Regions from separate parts of the Homo sapiens genome. Here region 1 is linked to region 2. The links come from fine-mapping of genetic effects on gene expression. A gene starts in region 2. The other region holds a variant in brackets. All regions are shown on one strand. Distances are from middle to middle.

Evidence for each region.
Region 1: its variant is fine-mapped to the expression of MTCH1 in whole blood (TOPMed, PIP above 0.99).

The regions. Positions count from the first base shown.
Region 1 is chr6:36,962,841-36,965,683 of GRCh38, forward strand. It overlaps PI16 (peptidase inhibitor 16), which reads left to right. Exons shown (of 7, transcript NM_153370.3): 5 at 95-772; 6 at 983-1,122; 7 at 1,546-1,997. The coding sequence ends at 1,104. Among named protein-coding and RNA genes, the nearest start is that of PI16, 9.5 kb to the left of the region's middle. RefSeq lists enhancers at 180-805, 806-1,430. The variant A/G (reference allele first, on the strand shown) is at 1,204.
Region 2 is chr6:36,984,596-36,987,494 of GRCh38, forward strand. It overlaps MTCH1 (mitochondrial carrier 1), which reads right to left and starts at 1,601. Exons shown (of 12, transcript NM_001271641.2): 1 at 1,258-1,601. The coding sequence starts at 1,578. RefSeq lists enhancers at 1,155-1,877, 1,996-2,205 and a silencer at 1,316-1,905.

The sequences.
Region 1 (2,843 bases), 22 kb before region 2:
TAGGACATTTGGTCGCGTCACTTGGTTTGCAGTGCCATGAGAGATGTGGGGTCCTGCTTGCAGCACTCATGCCCGTTCTCGTCTGTCTTATCAGAACCCATCGGAAGCCCGGAAGATGCTCAGGATTTGCCTTACCTGGTAACTGAGGCCCCATCCTTCCGGGCGACTGAAGCATCAGACTCTAGGAAAATGGGTACTCCTTCTTCCCTAGCAACGGGGATTCCGGCTTTCTTGGTAACAGAGGTCTCAGGCTCCCTGGCAACCAAGGCTCTGCCTGCTGTGGAAACCCAGGCCCCAACTTCCTTAGCAACGAAAGACCCGCCCTCCATGGCAACAGAGGCTCCACCTTGCGTAACAACTGAGGTCCCTTCCATTTTGGCAGCTCACAGCCTGCCCTCCTTGGATGAGGAGCCAGTTACCTTCCCCAAATCGACCCATGTTCCTATCCCAAAATCAGCAGACAAAGTGACAGACAAAACAAAAGTGCCCTCTAGGAGCCCAGAGAACTCTCTGGACCCCAAGATGTCCCTGACAGGGGCAAGGGAACTCCTACCCCATGCCCAGGAGGAGGCTGAGGCTGAGGCTGAGTTGCCTCCTTCCAGTGAGGTCTTGGCCTCAGTTTTTCCAGCCCAGGACAAGCCAGGTGAGCTGCAGGCCACACTGGACCACACGGGGCACACCTCCTCCAAGTCCCTGCCCAATTTCCCCAATACCTCTGCCACCGCTAATGCCACGGGTGGGCGTGCCCTGGCTCTGCAGTCGTCCTTGCCAGGTAAGGCCCATAGCATCTGTCCCACTTTCCTCCTGGCTCTGGAATGTCAGTATCCTGCCCCAGCATAGGTGGTATGAGCATGGTGGGGCATGCACCCTCTGAGTAGGAGCTTCCTCCCTGGCTGCTGCCCCACCTCCTTGCATGGTGGGGTGGGCGGGACATCAGGCACAGCTGTCTCTAGGCTGAGGCAAAGCCTCTTTCTTCCCACAGGTGCAGAGGGCCCTGACAAGCCTAGCGTCGTGTCAGGGCTGAACTCGGGCCCTGGTCATGTGTGGGGCCCTCTCCTGGGACTACTGCTCCTGCCTCCTCTGGTGTTGGCTGGAATCTTCTGAAGGGGATACCACTCAAAGGCAAGGCCTGGTGAGGGGGGCCCTGGCCTCATACCCACCTGGATTGTCTTCCTCCAAGTGAGAGACCACAGCTTCCTGGGC[A/G]GGTCCTGCTCTGTGGCCCAGCAGCCCCCCTTCACCCCAACTTCTGGCCAGATTCCAGGCCAGCACTCTTGTCCTCCTGGGAGGCGTCTACAGGGCCAGCCCCTGGCACTGCCCCAGGAGTGCCTTGGCTCTGGGTAGGCCCATCCTTCAGCTGGCTGCAGACTGTTCTGAGCGGTATTTACATGTGCCCACTCTCAGGTTGTCCTGTGGCCATCAGCTTCTCTCCCAGACAGAGGATCTCAGGCTTCCCAGGAACCCCCGGGCCCCTCCCAGTCCCCTGGCCTCTTCCTTGAGCCATCTGAGTCCAGGACTGTTCCCCAGAAGTGCCTCTTGCCTTCTCAGGGTGAAGAGGTCAGCTGTCCTCCTGTCATCTTCCCCACCCTGTCCCCAGCCCCTAAACAAGATACTTCTTGGTTAAGGCCCTCCGGAAGGGAAAGGCTACGGGGCATGTGCCTCATCACACCATCCATCCTGGAGGCACAAGGCCTGGCTGGCTGCGAGCTCAGGAGGCCGCCTGAGGACTGCACACCGGGCCCACACCTCTCCTGCCCCTCCCTCCTGAGTCCTGGGGGTGGGAGGATTTGAGGGAGCTCACTGCCTACCTGGCCTGGGGCTGTCTGCCCACACAGCATGTGCGCTCTCCCTGAGTGCCTGTGTAGCTGGGGATGGGGATTCCTAGGGGCAGATGAAGGACAAGCCCCACTGGAGTGGGGTTCTTTGAGTGGGGGAGGCAGGGACGAGGGAAGGAAAGTAACTCCTGACTCTCCAATAAAAACCTGTCCAACCTGTGGCAACTATTCCTTCTCTTTCTCATCCCCCTCCTCTAAAACACTCCATTTAGTGTCTCCTCTTTGGGACCCACCCTTCATTTCCTTCCTATAACTCTCGCCTCCCCCTAATCACAGGTGGCAGGCAGGAAGGGGAAGAGCCAAAGGAAGGCCAAGGGTGCTGGGCTGACTCCCCCAGCTTCAGGAGTCACCAGTGGGGCCTAGGTAGGTTTGGAGCCCAGGATCAAAGCATGGCATGCGGCCTCTTCACGGGGGCGCTGCTATCCAGGCCTGTCTGGGACACAAGGTCAGAAATGTACATCAGGCAAGGCTCTGCCAGCCCCAGGTGCTTGGAAGAGTCCTAAGAAAGGGATCTGGAGTCCCAGACCCTCCCCAGGGGAGCAAAGCAGGACTGTCCAGAGGTGCTGAGGATCAGGAAAGCACACATATGCTGGGGTAGCAGTGGTGGATGACTGAGGGTGGCTTGGGTGGTAGGGAGGGGCAGAGCAAGTCTCCAGACCACCGCTGGAAGGTGAGCAGTCAAACAGGACACCACCCAAGTCAGGCCAGGGCTGGGAACCGACCTGTAACCAAGGAGGACACTCCCCTCTTTTACTTTCTTTTTTTTTTTTGAGATAGAGTTTTGCTTTGTCGCCCAGGCTGGAGTGAAGTGATCTCGGCTCACTGCAACCTCCGCCCACCGGGTTCAAGCGATTCTCCTGCCTCAGCCTCCCGAGTAGCTGGGATTATAGGCACCTGCCAACACGCCCAGCTAATTTTTGTATTTTTAGTAGAGACGGGGTTTGGTCAACAGGTGGTCTTGAACTCCTGACCTCAGGTGATCCACCGGCCTCAGCCTCCCAAAGTGCTAGG
Region 2 (2,899 bases):
ACCTTCCTCCCCCCAAGCTTCTTAACTGGAAAATTCTGGCCTAATGACCCCCATCAAAACTGTACCCATCCCAGCCACACCCACCTAATTCTCACACCTCCACACGCCCTTCATTCCAGCTCACTCCTCAAGCAGCACACTTCATCTGTACCGCATTGCTGGCCACCACCAAATCTGCCAAGTGCCTATGCATCCCTCTGTTCCAGAGACATCCCTACCTCGGTCTCAATTTCTGGTAGTCCCTACCTATCCTGCCACCTATGTCTCCACTGTCCCTTCTGCCCAATTTCAATACTCCCGTGCCCCTTCTCCTCATCTGCCCAGATACAAGCACTGTGATTCCTCTCTCTGACCCCAACTATGACTTCCATTTCCTCCTCCAAATGCGTCATCCCCCTTCCCCGCTTAAAGCCTCCTCCTAGCTCCCCTCTCTAGACAAATCGCTGCCACTCCCCTCCCCCAATGCTGGCCCTATCTGTTCCCCTCCCCCCATACGCGTCACCCTGTCCCCTCCTCCTACCAAATCCGTCGTCGCCATCAAATCCAGAGCCCCCATCTCCGGTAAACCGATAGCATTCCCCTGCAAAAGTCTTTGCCTTCGCACTCTCCCACCAAATTAAATCACAATGCAACCCAAGACCTCCGTCTCCTCTGTCCACCCCCAGTCTGGTGTCCTTCTTTCCCTCCTAAATTTCTGGCCCTGGCGCCCACTTTGTCCCCACCCCAAGACGTTTTAAATCCATCTCTATCAAATCCAGAGCCTCCGTTCCCCTCTACCCCAATTATGTGCTCCTCATTCTCTAAACACTTTGCCTGGGCCCCCAACCTTCCTCCCCATCTCTTCACCCAAACTTCTTGCCCCTCCCCCAATTCTATTGCTTCTTCCCTCGCCCCAAATTCGCTCCCTTCCCTATCCCAAGTCCATCGTCCCCACTCCTTTATCTCCCAAATATGTTTTTCCAGCCCATCGCTCCCTCCTTGGCACTCCCCCAAATCGCTTGTTCCTTCCACCCTCTCCCGTATCTGTTATTACTCTAACCCCTTGGTCTCCTTTCTGTATCCTAAAACCCGTGACCCCTGCGTTCCCAACTCCCTCACGGCTTCCCTCCCATCCCACCCACTCGGCCCCCCAAACCCGCCGTCCCCACCCCTCTCCCCAAATCCGTCGCCATTGACTGCCCGCCCCAATCCTCCAAATCCTGGCCTGTCACCTTCACATCAGCCTCCCATCTCCCTACGGCGCCTCTGGTCCCCCACCTGGATGAGCAGCTTCACGTAGAGCAGGGGATGGCTGAGCGCCGTCACGCCCGCGCCCAGTGCCACGAAAAGAGCCTCAGTGGTCGGGGCGTTGTCCCCAGACCCCAGGCCCCCTGACCCGCCATCCATCCTGCGGGCCGAGGGCTGAGCCGCAGGCCGAGGGTGGCGAGGATGTGCGCGGTGCGCGGGCGGTGGATCGCGAGCTCGAGCCTCGACCCCCGCCGCCGCTCCGCCGCGAGCTCCGGCTCCAGCTCCGGCTCCCGCCATCCCCGCGGCACCGCCGCGAGCCCAGGGCGCCACTTCCGGGTCCGAAGCTCCCATGGCGCCCGGCGGCGAGGTCACTCCCCGTCACGTGACGGGGCCACGCCCCCTCACCGGCGTCAGGGGGCGGGGCCGGGGCGCACCACTCCAGGCCGCGGGGGAGCTCGGGAGCGTGGTGCGGCGGGTGGGACACGCCGGATGTGGCTCCCCGGCCGGTTGGAGGCCTAGCAGGACACTGGGCTGCGGGCCGGGGGTCAATGGTGGCGGGCAGCCGGGGCCCCGGGCTCGGGAGCTGTGGCGGCAGCCGCAGGCCGGGGCGCTCCCCCGGGATGCCCAGAGCACGCGGGGGCGGGGTTCGGCGCCTCTGGCTGCCAGACGTCCCCAATATGGTCTGAGGCGCTTCCAAGCCACCTCCCTGGCTTCGGGAGTTTTCTCTGCAGTTCTCTGCCCGCCCCTTTGCGGCCCAGATCCCAGTCGCCGCGGCCTGCGTGGAACTCTGCGCGAGCTGAATCTCCTGCTGCAGGACGAGCCCCGACCCCGAGCCCGATCCCCTCCGCGGTCCCAGCCTCTTTGTCCGATCGCATTTTCCATCTCCTCTGCCAGGAATGCTCTCCCAACCAGAGCAAATCCAGATGTCCCCTCGGCGACTGTGGGCACCCTCCCCAGCTGTGGAGCCTTCGCACGCCTTCCTCAGAGTCCGTGGTTGTAAAATTTGTTTTGCTCTAAAGTATTTGACTGTCTCCCTCACTAGATCCTGAGGGTTTTAGTGAGTGCCTCAGTGTGAGCACATGCAGGCACTGCTAGGCGCCTGTAGTTGATTCTTAGTTAATACAAGTGAATAATCACAACTAGACCTTAAATTGCAGGGACTATGTGACAGGCACTTTTTAAAATGCTTTATACGTGTTGATTTAAGTGTAATCGTCACAAGAACCCTGCGAGGAAGATAGGACAGCAAGTGCCCTGTTCCTGTTTGTAAACGTGCCCGACACTCTGCAACAACACCTACAACAGAACCGTGCTAGTTTTGGGGGTTCGCAATAAAAGTTTCTGTTTGAACGGATCCTAGAGTGTGCAGGGACACAGCAATGGAAGACCTGGTCCCTTTGTCTGTACTTAGTCTATAGCCAGTTCATTGTGAGAAATTTCTTTAGATCGACACCTGCCACTGTTAGTCCGGGTTTCCCAGTCTGTCCTTTCTAACTCCCTTCCTGCCTTACCCCCTAAAAAGCTACCTCCCCTCTTCCCACTCCTGATAATGAACACTATGTACTTTCCACGTTCAAAGCATGCCACACTCCCTCTCTCCCTCACCTTGGCCTCCCTAACCCAGGCTTGTCCTAGTGAAATCACTTGCAAAGCCTGCTAACCCTTTCAACTT